3 separate regions of the Homo sapiens genome follow, and regions 2 and 3 are each linked to region 1. The links come from fine-mapping of genetic effects on gene expression. A gene starts in region 1. Each other region holds a variant in brackets. All regions are shown on one strand. Distances are from middle to middle. Region 1 holds the start of STUM (stum, mechanosensory transduction mediator homolog). Region 2 holds the start of LOC105373115 (a long non-coding RNA gene). Region 3 overlaps STUM (stum, mechanosensory transduction mediator homolog).

Evidence for each region.
Region 2: its variant is fine-mapped to the expression of STUM in tibial nerve (GTEx, PIP 0.95).
Region 3: its variant is fine-mapped to the expression of STUM in tibial nerve (GTEx, PIP 0.98).

Annotation. Positions count from the first base shown.
Region 1 is chr1:226,544,966-226,552,546 of GRCh38, reverse strand. It overlaps STUM (stum, mechanosensory transduction mediator homolog), which reads right to left and starts at 3,783. Exons shown (of 4, transcript NM_001003665.4): 1 at 3,441-3,783. The coding sequence starts at 3,642. RefSeq lists a silencer at 4,505-4,799.
Region 2 is chr1:226,520,096-226,527,676 of GRCh38, reverse strand. LOC105373115 (a long non-coding RNA gene) reads left to right here and starts at 6,877. Exons shown (of 3, transcript XR_949221.2): 1 at 6,877-7,564. RefSeq lists enhancers at 6,029-6,721, 6,722-7,416. The variant T/C (reference allele first, on the strand shown) is at 4,508.
Region 3 is chr1:226,598,945-226,606,525 of GRCh38, reverse strand. It overlaps STUM (stum, mechanosensory transduction mediator homolog), which reads right to left. Exons shown (of 4, transcript NM_001003665.4): 3 at 5,852-5,860; 4 at 1-4,520. The coding sequence ends at 4,486. Among named protein-coding and RNA genes, the nearest start is that of STUM, 54 kb to the right of the region's middle. RefSeq lists enhancers at 919-1,598, 1,599-2,278, 3,488-4,023, 4,024-4,560. The variant A/G (reference allele first, on the strand shown) is at 3,606.

The sequences.
Region 1 (7,581 bases):
CAAGATAGATATAATTTTTAAATATAAAAGTATAATTATACCCCTGACCACTAGACAAACTCTCTGGCCATGTTGGGGCATAACAATGAACTTTCATTACAGGTATGAATAATCGTGTATATACTTATAAACACCCTAATTGTTGGAACATGAAGGTACCAACGGTGGTCTTTATTAGTAGAGTTTCACTGAATAGGACTAGAGGTGACTCTCTTTACTAATGTCCACTTGTAAAAATTGTTTTTCATTGTTTCAGTGAGGAGTTGGAGTGATCATAAATCACTTCTCCTTTCCAGCCACTCCCTAGGAGACAGCACATCCCACTCATGATATGAGTGTTATCCCGAGAGCACTGTTGCTTGGGTGGAGAAGGCACTGGGGAATTTTAAGGATGGGGCTTCTCCACAGCTGGTCCTGCAGACTGGATGGACCTGAGACACCTACATCAAAGGGAAAAAATAAAAATAAAAAACGAGCCTTCATTCAGCAAAAACTGCCCTCTCATCCAATCTGCAATCCAGGAGAGGACTTGCAGGGAAGGAAGTTTCCAGAAAAAAAGAAAAGATCTTTGGGCCAGTGGTCTGGGCAGTTTCCAGAATGGGAGTTTAGTGAGGATGGCAAGTGCTGAGGACACGTGATAGATTTTCTCAGCAAGTTCTAACCTAACACTACTCCCTCAGGGAGGCTTTCTCTGAGCCCCCTTCCTTCGCCCCCAGGAAGAATTTCTGCTACAACACTCTGTTCCTGCTGCCATCCTAGCACTTATCAAATTCAGACAAAGTTGGCCTCAATTTTCCTCAGCAGTCTATGACATCCTGACTGATTTATTCATCATCACAACCCCAGTCAATGCCTGGCATGTGGTAGGTGCCTGTGTTGGTCAAATGAATGAGTGAATTGAAAGAAGCTGCATTTCATCAAAGAGCAGAATCAGCCATGAATATTCAGTTGTCCCGGGAGCTTCAGATAAGCCAGGAGGCCTTGGAGAAGTGGATCTGGGCCAAGTGGCAGATTTCCAAGAGCTGGGGCCATTTAAACCACTCCTGGGGAAGGGGGGCAATAAAACCACCTGCAAGATTGGTCTGAGCTGCTTTGTTGCCTGGGACTCCACTGCAGGTGGAGAGGGGAGCAGAGGGATCAAAAGCACTCAAAGAGCCTTTGCTTCTGAGTGGTCCAGAGGGCAGTGCTGCCCTGGCTGCAGCGACCCCCACCCAGAGATGGGACCAGTGCTCAGCTCTGCAGAAGAGCAAGATGGACCCACCATCCCCAGAGAGCTTCCTATGCACCAGACGCTGGGCTTTATGTAATCACGTTTCATCCTCTCAGCAACGCCAAGAGACAGGTGTGCCTGACTTACAGATGAGAACCACCACCAAGGATCAGGAATCCCTCATTCCGTGTGGAGAGGAGCAGGAGCCTGTGCACCCAGTAAACTGTACAATAGCAACCAAAGCAAAATTAAAAAAAAAAAAGCCAGGATTATGTCACTGAAAATTCAGAAATCTGTGCACCTACAGCTCACCTGTTTTATTACTTTTGTGGTTTGCATATCTTCCCTTTATTTTCTCCTGGTTTCTTATAATGGTTTGTTTTGTTTGTTTGTTTATTTGTTTGTTTCACAAAAATCCCATAGGATTCTGATCTCACAAAGGGAAAAGCTGGATCCCCAGGGCAAGGAGCCAGGGGTCAGCGGAATGGACGGTGCCCTGCAGCCGATGCTGTCAATGCAGCAGGGCTAAGGCTGGGAAAGGCACCTAGTGAAGGGAGACCAGGGAGGGTACACACAGGTACATGCGTGGGCAGCTGCTGTCTCCTGGGGCTGGTCTCCCACAAGGTGGTTTCCTCGTGCAGCAGTGACTTGGTGCAGCCCCTCTCACCTGGCACCAATGCATTTGTTTCCTCAAAAGACCATAGGGTGGCGTTTACCTCACCACTTAAAAAAAAAAAAAAAGGTGGATCAAGATGCATGCTGGCTCAGGAGGATCTTCATATCCGCCAGAGGGAGGGGCAGGCAGTCTCTTTTTACTCCAGCAGGTGAGAATTTCTGATAAAACTAGATTAACACCAGCTGGCCTCCTTGCAGTGTCTAAATGTGCAAAGAGAGCTGATCTGATGACACCAGCCAGGGGGACAGGCTGCTGGAGGCACCCCAGAAGAGAGAAGCCCAACTAAAGGCCACCTAACTTACTGCTCAGATAGGCTGCTCTGGCCGCAGCAGCCCCTTAGGGTAGAAAGACAAGTAAGCTCGGAGGGGAAAGTGAACGGGTCCTGCGTGGGTGGCTGTGGCCTTGGCTGTCACCGCAGCAGAGGCCCCTGCTAAGCAGGCGAAGAGCGAGGAGACCGTGAGAAAGGCCAAAGTCAAACTGAAAACCCCTTCCAGCTGGCCTCTGCTCTTGGGAACTTGGAACCATACGTTGGCAACAGGCTCGCCGACAGGGGCACGCTTTCTCCCGGAGAGGGCACTGGGGCGCCTGGTTCTTCGGGCGGGCACGGGAGAGGGGGGCACCTCCCAGCACGCAGGAGCAGCCAGTGCCAAGCTGGAGGAGGGGAGGGGCGTGCAGGCAGAGACCTGGGGGTGGAGTTAAGGGAGGGAGGGTCAGGAAAACTTCTCATTCCCTGCCTCCATTCACCCTCCTGCACCATCTCTGTAAGGGGCCTCTGCTTTAAAACGTGGGACATAGATGCCACCAGAACCCCTGCCGGCTGCCGGAGTCCTGCACAGAATTACATCGGCGCACTCTCTACTTCTCAGGAACAGAAGGGATCCGAGGGAGCTATGGGTTCATCTCTGGCCACATGCATCCAAACTAATAAAATCATCCCCCATCCCCCTGGCGCCCTGCGGGGTGCTGGCGGAAGTGCAGGTACCCCTGAATGAGGCGGAGGAGACTCTGGCTAGAGTTCTCGTCCCCACGCGGTCCGCACTCCGCGAACCAAAGGGGGCTGCAGGTATATCTAGCCCGGCTCGTCCTCTTTCCCCGGCTCAGCTGACTTCGACGCCCGGGAGTTTGATCCTCGCCGCCGAGGCCCTAGAGCTCATTCTGATCCGACCCCATTCCTCTCGGGGAAGTGGGCTCGCGGACGGATGCACACGACGGAGAGAAGGAGCAGAAATCGGGGCGCCGGGACGGGAGCCCTACTCCGAAGCCGGCAGAGCCATTCCGGCCGCCGCTGCGGGCTCCAACATTGGCCGCAAAGTTTCCGGCTCTTTGGGGCCCCGCCTGCGGGTCGGAGACCCCAGCGCAGCCTCTCCCCTCTGGGGTGCACACTCCACGCGCTTCTGCCACCTGCCCGGGGACGCCAGGAGCGGGCGGTGGCGCGTGGTCGCAGCACTTGGAGCGCGCGGCCCCGCCAGGAGGTCTCCGGCCGCGCCCTTCTCTCCCCCCACGCCCTCCCGCGGCGGGGTGGGGGTCGCAAGGGTCGCGGCAGCCGTGTCTTACCCAGTCCCGGCACGAAAGTGTTGAGGAAGAGGCAGATGACGGCCACGGGGAAGGGCATGTAGGGGATGGCGGCGCGCAGGGGGCCCTTCTTCTCGCGGACCTGCACCACCACCCCGCTGGACGAGGACGCCCCCCGGGGGTCCGCCGCCGCCACCGCCGCCGCCGCCGCCGCCGTCTCGGCGTCTTTGTGCGAGGGCTCCATGGCCGGGCGCGCTCTCAGGCAGCCGGGCAGCACGGCCGGAGCTGGCGCCCAGCGTACGGGAGCAGGAGACTGTCGGCTGCGGGCTCCGGGCTCCGCGCCGAGCTCAGGCGGCCGCCGTGCTCCGTGCGCCGCGCGGCTCGCGGAGACTCCCGCCCTCCGGCGTCCCCACACGCCCGGCGGAGGGGCGGGGAGGGCGGCGCGACACCCGGTGACAGCGCTCTGACGCCCCTCCTCGCCAGGCCCCTTCCCCGCCCCCTCCCCCCAACCAAAACCACCGCTCACAAGGAATGGAAAATCAGGGCGGAGGGAAAGCAGTGGAAGAGGACCGCAAAGGGAGCTGTTTGCCCAGGTGCTGGAAGGGGTGGACACACCTCGCCCTCCCAGACAGGTGAACTAGGAACCTTGACCACGAAGCCCTGCGAACTGGGAGTGTGTGCTTGGCTGACACCGTCGGGAAAGCCTCGAGGCTGAGTCCCCTGATCTAGAGCAAGCCTTTGGCCAGGGACATGGGGACAAGGGACGGACCGCGCGGCGCCTGACACCTAGTCGGCCTTCAGTGCATTGTGATTTAAATGATTTTGTTTGGGGCGAGCGCAGTGGCTCCCGTCTGTATTCCCCACTTTGGGAGGCCAAGGTGGGAGAATTACTTGTGCCCAGGAGTTCGAAACCAGCCTGGGCAACGTAGCGAGACCCCCCCCCCCCCGCCCCAGCTCTATTTTGTAAAAAAAAAAAAAAAAAAAAAAAATCACTTAAAAAATATATAGGAGTGAATTTGTTTCAAGTGTCAGAGAAAAAGCAATCCAGAGATCGGATCGATAATAGAGGAAACAGATTTGCAAACACCAGGCCAGGTCTCCGCAAGACTAGTTAAAAGATGGGACACTTCCCTACACACACGCACCAAAAGCAGAAAGAAATGCGCCTGTTGCAGGCTTGTTGGGAAGCGTTCACCATCCCCTGAACTATACTGGAGGAAACCTGAGCCTTCTGTGAGCCCGACGTGGTGGTTAAAGAGCCAGTGAGGACACAGCGCCGTCTGGCGTTAATAATGGGGCAGTTGGTAGAAGCAACAGCCGGCAGCTTGAGGTCCTGTTTGAATTCGATTTTCTGAATAAGGCTGCTTCGCCTCCGCACCTGGAAAAAGTAAACGGATGAAAGTTACCGCCTCTAACGTTAGGGAGGGGTTAAAGGCTTCGGAATTATCCAGACAGTCAGCAAATCGTCTGAATAATTGGAAGGGTGCAATAGCCTCCCTTCAGGAATAATAGTGATTATTATTATAAACAACCCAGGGTCTCAGAAGAGGCTAAAAGAACATGGGTTATTGTATACTTATACTTATTGTATAAGTCTCTGAATAAAATAATTTTAAAAGCAAATGGCCAGGGGTTAGTGATGATACTGGTGGACACACACATGCGTGTGTACACATACACAGATACACACACACACGAGTCATTAGCTTAGGTTTGGCAGTCAGAAGAACAGGGTTAAAAATTTTAGTCTTTGTTCAGCCACTAAAACCTGTATGGCTTAGAAGAACTCGCTTAGCCTTTTCTGGCCTGGAGTTACTGTGTTGGTTAAAATCATAGCAAGCTTCCATTTAATACACAATTATTGAAGGCCTACTAAGACTTAGATTCCAGGGAGAGAGAAATGAGTAAAATCCAGCCTCTGCCTTCAAGAATCTAAGAAATGAGCTGAGAGATACTGACAACTACAAAGATAGACTTACAGAAACAGTGAGGAATGTTGCAGCTGTGATGTGCTGGAGGTGCTGCGACAACATGGACCTATCTGTGAAGCCAGCTAGCGTGGGGGAGGCCTCGGGGAGGTGTCCCAAAGAAGGCGATACTCAAAGGGACTTGAGCAATGACTACAGTTAACTATTTGCAGATTTGTTTTATTTTCAACAAACACTTATTTACCCAAGCACTCTCTGCCAGGCATCATTCTAAAAACCCTTTACACATTTTAACTCTTTTAATCCTTACCATAACTCTACAAAGTAAGGATTATTTATTACCCCATTTTACAGATGGGGCAATTGAAGCACAGAGAAGTTAAACAGGCTGCACAAAGTCCCCCACTAATCAGTGGTAGAGCTGGCAGCTGAATGCAGGCAATCTGGCTCCAGAATCAATTCTATATAACCAGTATTTTATTCAGAGACCTAGAAAATAACCCACATTCTGTGAATATTCTTTTGCAGAGCACTTGAACTGTCTTAGGGCCAGTCAATCATTCCTCCTGGAGAAAAAGGATTTCAGGGACGTCAGTGGATTTGCATCCCCCAGTTTTCCAGATGATTTGCTGAATATCTTGGATGTCAGAAAGACATCCAGGCAGAGCAACAAAATATACAAAGGCATGGGAGCCCAGGGAAGTAGGGATGATTCCAGGAATTGCAGTGTGGCTGGCACTAGGGCTTGTGTGGGCAGAGACAGGAGATGGATCTGGTGGGGTGGACAGGCATCTAGTACTGAATGGCAAAGGAATTTGGACTTCATCTCGGTGGTGGTGATGCAGAATCACTGGAACATTTTAAGCAGGGGTGTGGCATAAGTGTTCCAGTTACTATCACTGTGTCACAAATTACCCCCAAATTTAGCAGCTTAACACAACCATTTTTTTCTGATCACAAATTCTGTGGTCAGGAGCTTGGACAGAGCACACCAAGATAATTCTTCTTTGCTCCTTGTATCTGGAGCCTCAGCTCGGGAGACTGAAATGGCTGATAGCTGGAACAGCTGGGGCTAGAGGATCCACTTCTGAGAAGATTCTCAGGAATCTCAGCCTGCCTGGACTGGGGTAACTTGAAAGCTGGGTCAACTAGGATGGGTCAGCAAAGCGCCTACACATGGCCTCCCCACGTGACTTGGACTTTTCACACTATGACAGCTGGCTTCTGAGAGGGAATTTCCTGAGAGGAGGCCCCCAGAGAATGAACATTGCAGGACCAGTGGAAGCTGTGTGGACTTGGACTTTTCTGCCCTAACTTTGGAAGTCACACAGTGTCACTTCTGCAGGGCTTTACTGGTCGATGCAGTCACAAGCCTGCCCAGATTTCATGGGGGACACCCCGCCTCTCTATGGAGGGGTGTCAAAGACTTGGGCCTAGGCTTTAAAACCACCACCATTATGAGATATATTTGTTCACAGTGTGGAAGATGGGCTGGAGGGGATAAAATCAGGTCACATGCTTATATAGAGGCTGAGGGGGAGGAGGACTCTTCCTGACTGAAAAGGACTGAGAATGGGGTAGGGACAGTTCCCAAATGAAAACTGGGTATTAATAGCAGACAAGGAGGAAATGAGTTTGAAGGGTCTGAACACATCCGAGAGGTAGCGGGGACTCATTGATAAATGGCCAGCATAGATAATTGTCTTGATAAAAGTTGGATATTGAGTCAAATCGAGAATCAAGGAAGCAATTGGGGCTGCAGATTTGGGAGCCATCAGCATACAAATGGTAGTTAGAGCCCTGTATGCAGATGTGGAATTTAAAAAGTCACAGAGGCTGGGCGCAGTGGCTCATGCCCGTAATCCCAACACTGGGACGCTGAGGCAAGAGGATCACTTGAGCCCAGGAGTTCAAGACCAGCCTGGGCAACATGGCAAAACTCCATCTGTACGAAAAATACAAAAATTAGCTGGGCGTGGTGGTGCACACTTCTAGTCCCAGCTACTCAGGAGGCTGAGGTGGGAGGATCACCTGAGCATGGGGAGGTCGAGGCTGCAGTGAGCCGTGTCGCACCACTGCACTTCAGCCTAGGCAACAGAGTGAGACTCTGTCTCAAAAAAAAAAAAAAAGTTACAGAATTTCTGTAATTAAGCAGAAAGGAAAAAGGAGGGAAACGAGGTTTACATGGAGAAACACTACTAACAGTGTTTCATGGAAGCCAAAACAGGAAGATTTTAAGGAGGATGCAGTCAGCA
Region 2 (7,581 bases), 25 kb after region 1:
GCTGCCGGGAGTGTAGGGCGAGCTCCAAATCTAGGGGAGCTCTAGATCTTCCAGTCAGACCTGGAGCTGGACTGGTGCCCTCACATTCCCGCAGTGCCCCCAGGAGTGGTCGTCCCAGCGTCCCTGGCTCTGGCTCTGTCATCTGTGGGTGTCTTAGTGCCTTTAGATAGACTGGGGCCACCCCCAGGTAAGAAGGGCCAAGCCCCCTGAAACTGTACCCTGAGACCGCACCTCGGTGCAGGAGCTGACTCTGGCCCCGGCCCCAGCCCTGCCCCACCCTGAGCACCTCCACTGCCCTCCCTCAATAACAAAGGCCTGGAGGGCTGCCTCCCTACCCCCGTCCTCCACCGCTACGCAGGGTCCCCCCTGCAGCAGGGCACTTCGGCTGACTTAATGTCTCTCATGGATAAAATCGCTCTGAGTAGTTTTAAAGCTTTCAATTTTAGCCCTGGAAGCTTTTCCTTAAACAAAAATCTCACAAGAAAACTCAGTCTGCAAGAACGAAAGTGGAGCTGCTCTGATGGAGTGCAAGGTCAGTGGCTTCTCCCCAGACAGCCTCCCTTACCCTCCCCCGCCCCTGCCTCCTCTTTCCCTGGCAGCCCCTGAAGGGCTGTGTGGAGCTGAAGTACTTGTGGGAAGCGTGTTTGGACGGTGCTGACCAGGACCCAGTCACCTTTTCCTGTTTGTTTCCCTCACGGCTGGTTGGGCCAGGAAGTCCCGCCCTCTCAACCCCAGTGCAGCTGTCAATCAACGAGAGCACAAAGAATGTTCCCAATCCGCAGACAGAGTCCCTTCCACAGCTGGGATCTTCTCCACCTGGAGGACTACGTTCTTCGCCCCACCTTGCAAGTGGCTTGACATGAATTTGTTATCTGTGAGACAAATGTTCTTGGCCTGCCTAGGAGAGCTTTAAATAGACTCCGAGTTAAAAGAAAGCTTATCCATTATTTAGTCCAGCTCTTAGCTCGGGCAAGAATTCCTTACACATTCCCACCAAGAGGCAATCTAGATTCTCTCTGAATACTCCCCACAATGGGTGGCTCACTGTCTCACAAAGCAGGTGTCTCACTGTTAGGCAGCTCCTATTAAAATCCAAACCTGCTACCTTGCAGCCCTCATCCACTGGCTCTGCCTCTGGAGCTCAAAGAATAAGTCATGAAGTCGTGGAACTTATACTAAAAGGAATGCAGCTCACCCCAGGCTAGTCTTCTCCTCTCCTGTTCCATTCTCCTTAGAGGGCACTTGTGTAGATTATTATATTGGTGGTCAAGGAAACATGTCACTTAGTATTTGTGGACTGTGTATTCCCCTCTCTCATTGACTCTTGGATCATCCTCATGACTTGCTTTGGCCAATGGGATATTAGCAGGCATGAAGCCTTGGAAGCACTTGCAAATTTGGGCTTGCCCCCTTAGGAAGTTCCTCCTTGGAAGCCAGCTGCCATTGCTGAAGGAAGCTCAAGTTTGGCTACTGAATGGTGCAAGGCCATGTGGAGAGAGGCCCTGGAAAAGGGTAGTCCATTTTTTCCTTATTTTTTTATGTTTAATGTTTGTGGGTACATAGTAGGTGTGTATATCTATGGGGTACATGAGATGTTTTGATACCGGCATGCAATGTGGAATAATCACACCATGGAAAATGGGGTATGAGGAGAGGCCATTTTGGATGTTCCAATCACAGGCAAGCTCCCAGCTGAAGGCAACCACAGGAGTGACCTAAGCAATACACAAGGAACAGAAGGGCTGCGCTGCTAAGCTCAGCCAAACCACAGGATCTTGAGAAATAATAAATTGTTGTTTTAAGCAACTAAATTTTGGAATGGGTTGGTAAACAGTGATAGAGAATTGAAAACTACTGATAGAGTTTTTCTAGGAGCACATTTCTAGGATAATACGGCCAAAATTTTTCATCTCAGATCAGCCATTTACAAAGAGTATAGACAACCTGCCTAAGCCAAGAGATAGCAAACATCTTTACTGGAGATACCGGGAGCTCGGCCACTTAGAATTAAATCAGAAGGAGTCAGTCGGAGATGGGAAGGAGTTAGGAGCCTTTGGCTTGAGCAAGTCAGAGAGCCCCGTTTGAATGACAAATTATATGGAACAGCTTGGCTTTCCTCACAAAATAAAATTATGCTTCAGTTCAAATTTCTTGCCACTTATAAATTACTTTTTATTTTATTGCCCTACAGACCACGTCCAGATCCGTTTGGACGCTATGCTGTTTTTTATATTCCATTCTCCAAAGCTGTGAAGGTACAAATCATGGGCCATCCCAGGTGGTTTGGGGAAGAGATGTTTTTTCTTTCAAAAACAAGGTTTGGGTACATATTTGTGGTAATGACATAGAAATGAAAACATAGCAAGATCAATTGGAGTTTATAATAGCATTCTGCACAGGGAGAAATAGTGTGACATGCTCCTGGATGAGGCTGCCCCAGCCTTCTCCCAGCATTCACTCCATAAGCCTTTATTGAGCACCTACAGTCCCTGCCTTCCAGGCACTCATGTTCAAGGGAGGAGACTGACAGGTGGAGCAGCAGGAGCAATACAGTGTGATAAGGAGGAAGTCTGGGACAAGGAAAGTACCTACAAGAGGCCTGTCTCCTAAAAGAAGCTCTATCTAGGCTGAGAGCAAAAGGGTCAATAGAGCAAGTTGAACAAAGAGAAGGGACATTCATTGATTGCAGAGATTACTAGCTTCTACCCAATATCTATCTATCTCTTTTTCCTGATGATTAGAACATCATTTTATCCTGCTAGGCAATATTTCTAGCTAAAGGGCTACATTTCCCAGACTCCCTTGTAGCTAGCAATGAATAATGGGATATAAATACAAGTTTACAGGGTTTCTTGGAAGGAGTTCTGACTCAACTAGGAGACACAACCAAGTTCCTCTATTTTTCTGCCTGGAATGTGGACTTGATGGCTGGAGTGCCAGCAGCTATTTTGTGTCATAAAGCAAACTTGAGATAGAAACCAACTATAAAGTATGGTAGAGCAGAAAGTTAAGAAGAGCTTGCATCCTGACAACTGTGAAGCTGCTATATCAGCCCTGGAGAGCCACCCTTCTGGCTTCTTTCACATGCCAAATAAATAAATGTCAGATTTAAACTACTTGTTTGTTTTGTTGTTGTTGTAATTTGCAGCTGAACCTAATCCTAACTGATATACCTGCATGTGCCAAGGCCCAGAGGTAAGAGAGCACATGACATATTCCTCAGTCTGCAAATGGTTCCGAGTGGATGGAGCTCAATAAACTGTGTGACAGAGGAGGGGGTGGTGAGTGGGACAAGAAAGGGAAGCAGAGGTGAGCCTGGAGTTCTTGGGCAATGGGGCATAGAGGGAAATCATAATTGCTAGCATTTATGAAGGGCTTTAAACAGCAGATTCTTCTCTCCCTATCCTCCACATCTGGAGAAAGGACAGCCTCCTGTTCCCCAGAGACCTAGGACTAGGGAACAAAATGTCCTAAGTTAAAGGGTGTGTCTCAAAATTGGGGACATGGCCACAGACAACTGTCCTTGGATATGAGAACTGCCTCATGACTTCGCTTAAACTAAATTAAACCTTCTCTGGGTCCCATTTTCCAGCGTGATATCAAAGTCAGCTTCCCTCTCCCAAGGGCTGTGCAAGATTAGAGAGCTGAACTTGTAGAAAACCAGGAAAGGCCTCCAGCCTTCCATCATGGAATTGTTTCTAAGTTGCCTGTTGCCAAGACTGGGATGGTCCACGGGCAGCCCAGATAACCGTGAGAATAGGGATCCCCTTGAGGAGCCCAGGTCCACAGCTCGCTGAGAGTAGCCTCCTCCTGCATCCGCAGGCCACCCCAGCAGAGGTCTGGCGGCTCCCAGATTCCACAAGGAAACATGGCTTGTTCCCTGCCACCCTTGGAAACTCCCAAACCTAACCCTTCACCTTTGCTGGGGAAACCCCTCTTTGCCCCCCTTTTGGGTGGGAGCCTTGTCATTTTCCCCAGTCGAAAGGAATCCAGCTCAATCCTCCTGGGTAAGCCTGAAACACAGAAGAGATTTGCCTCCCACCTTTCCACACTTTCTCCCTGCCCTGGGGAAAGGGATAATGTAAGGAACTTTAAAAAATACTCGTCATCCAACCATCCAACCATCACTGGCAGCAGAGCCCCTGAAAATCATATAGCCTGGAGCAGCTTGTCACAGAAGATAGAGAGGAAACAGTCAAAGACAAATTTGATTTGATAGAGTCGTAAAATGGTCTCAGGAGCCAGGGTGAAGAGGCTCCCGCTGGCCAGAGATGTGAAAATGTGAGTACCAATAAGGACAGTAACAGCAGTGTATTGAAATAGGTCAAATATATATAAATCCATGAGTCTATAATGATACTTTTTTTAAAAGAACCTAACTGGCTATCAGTTGAGGCTATCAATTCATACTAATGAATTAATTCATTGTTTTGATAACTAACATATATAGAAGTAAAAGATCAAGCAAGAGATAAAGACAAAAAGAAACTACTCTGGCCCATGTAAA[T/C]ATATCTCAAGATGTTAAAAAAAAATTAGAAGAGTTCAGCCTGTAATGACTGTAGCAGGAAAAGCAGTGCTTTTTAATGATGCACAAGGGAATGAGAAGTCCTTGCTCTGAGCCTTGGTGGTCCACGGGAGGGTCTACGTGGGCTTGAGCCAGCAGGGTTTCCTAGGACACGGTTCTCCAGAGAAAATGCCCTGGTGAAAACCACAGGCAGAAAAGAATGGGATGAGCCTGGGATGGAATAGCAACAAGAATATCCCAGAAATCATTTTTTTTTTTTTTTGAGACAGAGTCTAGCTCTGTCACCCAGGCTGGAGTGCAGTGGCATGATCTCAGCTCACTGCAACCTCCGCCACCCAGGTCCAAGCAATTCTCCTGCCTCAGCCTCCCAAGTAGCTGGGATTATAGACATGAACCATCACGCCCAGCTAATTTTTGTATTTTTAGTAGAAATAGTGTTTCACCATGTTGGCCAGGCTGGTCTCAAACCCCTGACATCAGGTGATCTACCTGCCTTGGCCTCCCAAAGTGCTGGGATGACAGATGTGAGCCACCGTGCCTGGCCCCACAAAGCATTTGGGCACTTTCCCAGCATTCAGTGAACTATGTGACACAGTGTTCCGTGATGAAAACAAGATGCCACCCCCATGGGAAGGATGAGAACTGAGTCAAGTGATTGAGTTTGGCAGTTTGTAGACTTCAAATCTCCTTCAAAGGACTCAGTTCAGGGCAGTTGTGGGTTGTCCACCAAATCGCAGTCTTAAGGAGTGAAAGGTGGAGCTAGACTGCTGGGAGGGAGAGCCAGGACAGAAAGGTGGGAGAAGGAAAGTTAGCTTGAGGAGGAAGCAGAGGCAAAGAGCTTGTTATGGAAATGATAAGGAAAAGGCCTAGTAGATGAGTCCCAGAAGGCAAGAGAAAGAGGCATGGCTGAGCTGGGCTGGGTGCAGGGAGCACCTGGAGAACAGACCCAGAGATCTCCGCTCCATAATGTGGGGGCAAGCATGCCACATAGCAGCCTGGTCTGCCACTTTCTCTCCCTACTCCCATCTCTATTCAGGGATGGACTAGGGCAGGGTTCAAAGGCCCAGGAGAAAGTCAAGGAGGCTCCCAGGACCTTGCTCCAGAGAAACCAAGAGGCCATCAGGCAGAGCGACGGGGTCTGGGTCACCAGGAACCAGGTGAAGACAAGTAAGGAGGATGGGGAGGAGATATGGAGGAGGATGAGGAGGGAGATGAGGAGGAAGGGGGTGGAGAGACAGAGGAGGAGAGAGGGAAGTGAAGAGGGGGTATGAAGAGAAGGTGGTAGGAGCTGGCAGACACAGAAACGCAGTGTATTTAAGACCTGCTATTTTTGTTTTCCTTTTTTCTTTCCCTTTCTTTTTTTTTTTTTTTTTTTTTTGAGACAGGGTCTCGCTCTGTTGCCCAGGCTGCAGTGTGGTGGCACGATCTCGGCTCACTGCAACCTCCTCCTCCCGGGTTCAAGCGATTCTCCTGCCTCAACCTCCCAAGTACCTGGGACTACAGGTGCATGCCACCACACCCAGCTAATTTTTGTATTTTTAGTAGAGACAGGGTTTCACCATGTTGGCCAGGCTGCTCTCGAACTCCTGACTTCAGGTGATCTGCCCCCTTCAGCCTCCCAAAGTGCTAGGATTACAGGCGTGAGCCACCACACCTGGCCAGGACCTGCTAACATTGAGTGTGGCCCTTTCATTGTGCAGATGAGGAAACTGAGACCCAGAAGAGCAAGTTCTTGGTCATAAAGCCCAGTGATATCGCAGAGGGGCAGGAGAGTGGTGAGAAACACACAAAAATTGTCTTCACACAACTCCCTCAAACCCCCACTCCCAGAAGAAAGAGGCGGAATTATTCCCAGTCCACCCAGGTCAAGTGACTTTGGATGGTGGCACCTGTGGGTGGGCTGAGGAGTCCAGGGTGTGTGGGTGCAGCTCAGTCCTTCAGGGTTAGTCTGTCCTGCCCCGCTTTCCCAAGCTCTCAACTCTGCAGGAAGTTCATGGCTCCACTGCTGCTCGGGGTGTGTGAATCGGGAGAGAAAAGACTTGGAAACCCATGTACACCTGCCCGATGCAGAAAGGACGAGGGTGCCCTTCTTCTACACACAGGTGGGACTTGGGCCTGGCCTCAGGAGGCACAGCTGCCCCTACCCAGGCCTTGGCCACAGTTGCCATGGAAACCGCACTGTAAAGGACTGAATGACCTCAGATTTTGCGTTTCATCTCCCAACATAGGATTTTAGAATGCAGAGAGCAGTTACTGGTCTTCTCTTATTTCAATGCCAGCTGAGCAGCATAGAGGTCCCTGGAGGCCCTTTGAGCTCCTCCTAGCTCACAGGAACAAGTGTGTGGGTCATCTCCCTGAGCCAGCCTCCGCTATGAGCCTTTGCCTTGACCCCTTGATCTATTCTTATTCACTTGGCAACAGTGATTAAGCCACAGGAGGTTGCAGGTGCTGGATCAGGCAACAGGGAAAGGAAGATGAATAGGAGACAGATCCTGACCCAAAGAAGGATGCAGTCGAGTTGGGGAAACAAATACATAAATAAATCATTATAAACCCATGTGGCAAGTACATGGGGCACCCAACGCACAGCAATTTGCTCACTAAAGTAGGTGACAGAGGGGGCAACATTGGGGCGAAGAGCTTGAAGAAAATGGTGACGGTGTGGACGGTTATTAAGGGGAATCATTCAGAGGACCAGGTCAAGTGGTTGCTGAGTGACACCAAATGCCCCGCTGAGGCTGGGCCCCAGGCCAATCTACAGGCCACTTGATTTTTCTCCAGCAGGGCTCAGCTATGAAGGCATATTGTGGGACTGTGGTCAGAAAGTGAAGCATTGGAAGTGAAGATTTCAGAAGAGGAGCTGCTCTGGGAACAAACACAGGGTCCAGCATGTGCCCTGGGAATGGACAGCAGACCAGGAGCCAAGGCAGGAGTCACAGGAATTACAGAGGCACAGGGACTCCCCCTGTGGTAGGACAGCGGTTCCTGCAGACACTGCTGTCCTGGGACTGAAGTGGTTACGGCAGGAGTGGAAAGAAGGTAAGCCACGTTCCAGC
Region 3 (7,581 bases), 54 kb before region 1:
TTTAAATGACACGCCCCCAAGCATTTATGCAATGCTCAGGGCTTTCTTTGCAAAATTCACTAACACCATAAGAAACAGCCAATGCAATTAAAGCCTAAGGTGGGCCTGGGAGCCTAGAAGGGACCCTGAGGAGGCCTGGCTCTCCACCCTCAAGCCTAGGGGTTGGATCTGGCAAAACTGAAGTGAATTCTCAGAATTGCAGGCATCTGGGCAGGGAAGGGGTTAGCTAAAGAACATGTTTCAGGGTTTTTGGCTTTGTGGGTGTTTTGTATTTTAAAGAGCCACGCTGGTGCAGAAAGACCAGGGCCCTATCAGCTTCCCCTCCTCAAGAACCTCGGGCCTTCGGAAGGCCTTTGACCCGGTCCTGGGGTTTCAGACCCACTTTGTGCTGCCTTACACTTGGTGTTGGGATCTGTGCCTGGCTTTTCTTTTTGAGAGCCGGACCCCTTTGCCCTCCAGGGGAAAAGTTAACCATGTGGCTTTTTTTCTTTCTGCAGTTCCTTTCTGTAGCATCCTCCTTACTGCTTCCGAGCCCTGGGCATCCTGCATGAGGCGGAGTTCATCTCACACCTCTGAGATGCCTGTGCCAGCATGGCTGGAGCCCCTGGCTGGCAGAGCGGGCAACTTGGTCCTGCACATTAGGATGGGGAAGCTCCTAATACCAGCTGTCTCTCTGCCGCCATCCCCCAACACCCTCAGGAAGGGGCACCTTTCTGGGCCTGCCTAAAGGAGGGAGCATGGGTGTGAGGGCTGCCCAGGCAGGTGGGAGTACGGAGCCTTGTGGGGCAGGGTGGAGGCGTCCAGGACCTTCCTAGGAGGTTTTGCCCAACTCCCCCTAAGTGATGACAGGTCTCAGGAGGGGGCCGCCCCCACATATGGGAGGGAGAAGCTTATTTTCCCAGCTTGGGGTGGGGGCGGCTGCTGAGGGGATGGAGAAGAGATGGTAATTTATGTTGCATGTTTAGTGACACAATCCAGACACAGGTGGGATTGTATCACTAAACATGTGACATAATCACCCTATTACTCCTGAGGGGTGAGGACCCCTCCACAGGACCTGCTCTGGGCTGCATGCGATTCTGCTCCTTCTTCTGGGAGTGCTGTAGTGAGTGTGTGGACGGCACAGGCTGTGGGGGCGGCCCAACCTGGCCACTTGCCTGTCCTGCCACTTAGGAGCTGAGTGTTTGGGGGCACATGACTTACTCTCTCGGAGCTTCTCCTCTGACATCTGAAACTCACAAAGGCATCTCCCCTCCCAGGAGCTAAAATGCCCTGCACTGTGCCTGGGTGAGGCTGCTCTTGGGGCTGGATGTGTGGGTCTGGGGCAGCTGAGGGTGGGAACCATGCTGCCTGCCCCTTCCTTACCATGGGAAGGTCAGCGGCGTGGCAGGCTGGGGTAGGCTCTGGCAGCAGAGCCATCAGACTCCTGCCGCTCCCATGGGGACCTGGCCTTCTCAGCCTGAGATCCTTGGTTCTGAAACTGACTCAGAGCTCAACATCCAAATCAACAGTCTCCGCCGTCCACAGGACACACCCAGGCCACCCACAGCTCACTCTGGCTCTAGGGTCCCACTCTGACCCAAGGGAATGACCACCCTGATCCCAGTGTCACAGTTTGGTACTGGGAGCATCTCATTGCCTCTGACTTTCTCTGCAAGCCTGTAATTCCTGCCCTAAACACCCACAGCCAGGGAATGTCCTATTGAATTCCGACCGACAAAAGGCCCCAACCTGGAATGTGCCCTGCAGCCTCTGAACCAACAGCCTTGTCTGCACTATGCAGGCAAAGCCCAGCTTTGTCACCAAAGGGCTGTGTGTCAACCATGCACTTGCCTGCACGAGAACCCTAATTTTCAGCTGGCTGGTGTTTGAGAAGTTAACTCTGGCCCTGGTCTGAGTGGCCAGCTGGAACTATTTGGAGTAAATCAGCCACTGTCCCTTATCTACTGAAGATGATCATGCTGAGACCACGGTCTAATTTAGAGGGGCGGGGGCGCTATTTTGAACCGGTCCCGCCCACATGGCAACCCTCACAGCCTCATTCAGGAGACAGGCAGGGGCCTCTTGGCTTCTCCCACACATCAGTTACCCGGAAAGGGGCCTCCTCCTGAGGCTGATGTTTTCCCAGGTTTAGAGACGCAGCCCTCGGGGGAGAGGAGGATCTGGGGGCGCAGTGGCCCTCCACACACACAAACACACAAACCCCTGTATTAAACCATCCCACACGGGACCCAGGGTGACACCTGCCACTCAAGAAAGTCCCACCTGCATCTGGATTGTGTCACTAAACATGCGACATAAATTGCTATCTCTTCTTCACCCCCTCAGCAGCCGCCCCCAGCCCAAGCGGGGAAAATAAGCTTCCGCCTCCCATTTGTGGGGGCGGCCCCCTCCTGAGACCTGTCATCACTCAGGGGGTGTCGGGCAAACTCTGGGGGCTGTGTGGGGTGAAGGGCTGTGGGCTGGTGGGCATGGGAGGGGGCGGCTTCCTGCAGCTGAAGCTATTTTATCTGAGTAGAGGGGCAGCTCCACTCTGACGCAGCTTCCTCGAGAGCAGCCAGCACCAGCCTGGAGGATGCCTGCTGCACACAGCAGAAGGTTCTAGCTTTTTAGAGAAAACCAAATCTGTTCCCACACCTTGAAGATACAGAGGCTTCCAAACAGGAGAGAAGAAGGCAAAGGCCTGGGTTGGGGTCTGTAAGAAGAGAGGACAGGACGCGACAAAGACACTGCCAGGTGTTCAAAAACGGCAGCCCAGCCCCAGGCAGCAATGGAAGACGGACAGTAGCTAAGGGATCCATGATAAGGGGTGGGCAGCAGGGCCCGCTTCTCAGGCAGGACTGTGATTAGAAAGCCCGGTGGATGGGGTAGGTGGGCTGAAACCCCCAGAACGGTGGCCACTACTTCCCAAGCACTTTCATCCTGCAAAATCCCTTCTCCTGCCCTCATGGAGTTCTGACAGTCTCTGATAGACAAACAAGCCCTTCAGAGAGGGACATGCCCAATGGCACTGTGTCAAGTGGAGTCAGAAGCTTGACTTTGGGCCAGCCCCATCTGTTAGCATTTCCTATGTTAGAATGAAAATGAAAGGAAAGGAAACAGACATGTAAATGTCCATCCTCTTAGTATCTAATTTCTCTTAATTTCAGATTGATACTTGATCCACAGTATCCTGGACAACTTCTGCTAGATTCTCCCCACCCCTAGCCCCCATTAGGGATCTAGCCCTGTCCCAATCACTTACAGAGGGGCTCCTTAAAGAGGCCCATGGTCTTTTGGCAACTGAAGGAGTCCTTGTGTAATGCCGACAATTTCACCCTCTAACACATCTGTTTGCAAGCAGGATTTTCAGATCAAGGTCCACAACCCCATACAATTGTTCTTGCAATTCTGAAACCCTAAAAGCTCTCAAATGGTAAGTTTTTCCCTAAGTTACTTAGTGGCAAAATTAGACTGAACTGAGGTGAGGCTATTTACAGTTTGTATAGCTCCCAGTTAATGGGACTAGTCACATGTTTCTCTGCAGAAATATTCACGTGCCTGATGGTAGGCGAGATGTTCCACACTCTGCCGGGAAGTTAGAAAGTGTACGATAAATGGATCGC[A/G]TTGTCTTTCTCAAATCTAAAATTTCTCAATTCGGAGACACATCTGGCCCCAATGACTTCAGAAAAAGGAATGTGGGCCAGAAATGCTGTTAAGTATTGGGTGAAAGCCTGCTAGTCTGCCCACTCCTGCTTCAGTCTAATAACTTTGTGTATAAACATCTGGCAGTTTCACCCCAGGGAAGGAGCTACTCCTCTCCTTCCCAGGAAAACACAGGTCACGACACACCCAGCCCTCAGATTTCAGCTGCGAGGAGGCGGGGGGTGCGGTCAGGGAGGCAGGCCCAGGAGACGCCTGTGGGACTGGTCTTCTCCCCGAGGCCTCAGGCCAGCTGTGGGCACAGTGGGCCTTTCCACGCTAGGGTGGAGCCTGGCCATCCTCACCCACACCCTGGTGCTGCCCCCAGGAGACCACACAGTAAACACTCGGGGCACCAGATTTTGAGGCAGGTGGGGTCCCACAGGACGGGTCTACCACAGTCCTGTCCCCTTGGTGAGCCCCTGCTCACCCAGACAGGGCCCGGTGTGGCCCGGCCCAGCAGACGTGGCGTGCCTTTGCGGTGGGCAGTGGGTACAGCAAGGCCAGTTGGAGCCTGCCGGAGCATCCCAGCCTCTCTGTGGGCGTTCTCATCTCCACCCCACTCTCTGATGCTCTGGTGCCTGCGCCCACAGTGCTTTCCAGAGCAGGAGGGGCTGGCAGCCCTCACAACCTGCTGAGAAAAGCAGATGCGTTTTCAAAATAAATAATATTTTTAAAAATACCCCCTTTCCACCCCCAGTCCAGAAAATGGCAGAAAAGAACATGTAAAGGTCCTTGTGCCCAAAGCTGCCTGGTGCAGCCCTCACAGGGCCCCCCTGGATCTCCCCAGCGGCTCCCGTGGGCTCACAGCTGCTGTGGGATGCCCTGCTCCTTGTAGCCTGTGAGGAAGAAGCAAAGGAGAGATGGTTAGACACCTGCTTACTTCAGGATTTCTCCAGGAGGTGCCCCTAGCCCAGAATGCACACAGGAGGCATTGTTTATACTAAGGTGTAAATGACTGCTACCATCAGAGCACAACTTTTCCCAAGGGCTTTGACTTTCTAATGGGAAACAAAAGAATGAATCAGGAAATGTGGAGTACTGGGTCTACTGGGAATGTATGACGGGCGGGCATTTGGGGTGGGAGCTAAAAGGCTATCGACATGCTCCTGAACCCACATCTGGAAGCCGCTTACAGACTGGTCTGGTGTGCTTTCCCAGTGCAGAGCCTTGGGAGCAGGTGCCAGGCAGGCTTCCCCGAAGGTTGGGCATCTGGTATGGGTGGATAGAAGGAGGAAGAAAGGAGGAAGATGGCATACAGAGGGGAGCAGCCATCCCTGTGTGCGTCCAACCTGCTGGACGGTTACGGCAGGAAAGGGCGCCTGAAGGCTAAACCTTTAAAACATTGTTGATCATGAGTCCTTTGGGAAAAAGTGAGCTCTGTGGATAGTAAGGAATTGTTACTGCTTTATTTAGGTGTGAAAGGGTATTGTGTTTGTTTTCTTAAGAAGATACCCTTTGGGAGGCCGAGGCGGGCAGATCACTATGTCAGGAGATTGAGACCATCCTGGCTAACACAGTGAAATCCCGTCTTACTAAGAATACAAAAAATTAACTGGGCGTGGAGGCATGTGCCTGTAGTCCCAGCTACTCGGGAGGCTGAGGCAGGAGAATCGCTTGAACCCAGGAGGCGGAGGTTGCAGTGAGCCGAGATTGCGCCACTGCACTCCAGCCTGGGAGGCACAGCAAGACTCTGTCTCAAAAGAAGAAGAAGAAAAAAAAAACGATACCTACTGAAATATTCCCAGCTGCTATTACATGAGCAGAATTTGCCGAGCGGTTATTCCTATTAGCCAGTGAACTTAGTCTGAAGAGGAGCTTTGGTGTATTGAGCTGCTTTTTTCTCTTCATTTAGCAGAGTATTTCTCAATTTTGGGTGCTAATAACCCATGCTGGGGTAGGGGAGATGTGGCGAATGACAGAGGAAAGGAGGCTGGCCATGAATTGATAGCAGTTGAGGCTGGTGTGGGCATTAGGGCCTCATTTTACTAGGGGCTCTACTTTTGTCTATGTTTAAGCATTTTCCAAACCAAAAGTTCAAGCTAAACATAAAAGCCCATTGACCCACTGGGAGAGTGGGTGGGGTGTTTGTGTGCAGGAGTGGGGGTCTCGGGGGAGGGGAGGGCCCCAAGCAGCAGCACGAGGCCCGCACGTCCATCCGCAGACTCACCTTGGGAAACTGCAGCAGCACAGAGTGGGAGGCAGCAGGAGGAAGAGGAGAGAGAGAAGAAGAGAAAACACAGCCTGAAAACAGAGCCACAGGGAACGCTTGGCACAGGAAACAAAGCAGATCCATGGTGAGGCCTGGGAGATGGGACAGGGGCCATGCCAGTGGCTTCTCAGACGCCATCCCCAGGCAGGGAGTGCTCAGTACTCATGGTGACAGCCACAGTGGCCAGTGGTCTGCCCACCAGGCGTGTGGGTGTGGCTAGGGGCACAGCGAGGGGCTCTCACACTGCCAGGGAGCTTGGTCCACTGCCTCCCCAGCCCTCCATATCCTGGCCATGCCCACACTGCTGCCTTCATTCTTTATTCTTGTCTTCTTTTGACACAGAATCTCACTCTGTTGCCCAGCTAGAGTATAGTGGTGTGATCATGTCTCACTGCAGCCTCAAACTCCTGGTCTCAAGTGATCCTCCTGCCTCAGTCTCCCAACATGCTGAGATACAGGCATGAGCCACAGCACCTAGCCTTTTTTTTTTCATCCTCAGCTCATGCCTTCCTCCAGATAAATTCCAGATGGACATGAGGAGTGGCAGCTCCTGGACAGCTAGAGCTTTGACTACAGCAATCTAAAGATGCTGATGTGCCCCATCCTGGCCCCACACTGGCTCTGTCTGAGCTATGTGCTTAGCCATTTCTATGGAGAGGAGCCACATATATAAAAATACTTTGGGGAAGACCCAGGCCAGAGGGTGGCAAACAGATTTTATCTTGCAGACCTCTTGGATCAATTAGTAGTGACTGCCTGAAGCCCTGTGCTGAGAACATGTGAGACTGGTCACCAGAAAGTGTCATGATTGATTAGCAATGTCTGCCATGGGCATGGCAGTAGAAAGAGCCCACCATAGAGCTACCAAGTATTTATTGACCCATGACCAAGACAGGGTGTTGTTGTTTGTTATTTGTTGTTATTCATATAAATCAAGCAACATGCTTGCAACTTCCTGATGTTAACTCCCACTTTCATCTAGATTTCTCTGACTCCCCTCTTAGGAGTTTTTCATGATAGTGTGTTTGCTGATGACACCCCAGGCAATGCCATGCGAAAAGCCAAAGTGTACTGTTACAACTGAAAAGTTTCCTCTGTTTTTATAGCAAGGGGCTGGACTGACACCAGAAAGAAGAGTCCCTTATCCAACTGTCTTCTAGGATAGAAAAGTCCATTGTGATAATTCCCTTCAAAGGAGTCACTCTCAGACACACAAGTTCCATGGTTGCTGGGAGTAATCCCACCTATAGCACCATCTCATGAGTAGCAACTGTTCACCCTTTGGGGGTGGGATTAGTTGTGGGAAAAAAATGCAAAGGCTTCCCTTGCTGAGTTGGGTGAAAGAGTCTGGCAGTCAGGCAGTGGGCAAGAATGAGGTGTGACTGGTTTTTGTATTCAGCCCTCAAGTCTATCCCCCTGATATGGTTTGGCTGTGTCCCCACCCAAATCTCATCTTGAATTGTAACTCCCACAATTCCTATGTGTTGTGGGAGGAACCTGGTGGGAGATGATTGAATTATGGGGATGGGTGTTTCCTGCAGTGTTCTTGTGATAGTGAATGAGTCTCACGAGATCTGATGGTTTTAAAAATGGGAGTTTCCCGGCACAAACTCTCTTTGCCTGCTGCCATCCACAAAAGAAGTGACTTGCTCCTCCTTGCCTTTCGCCATGATTGTGAGGCATCCCCA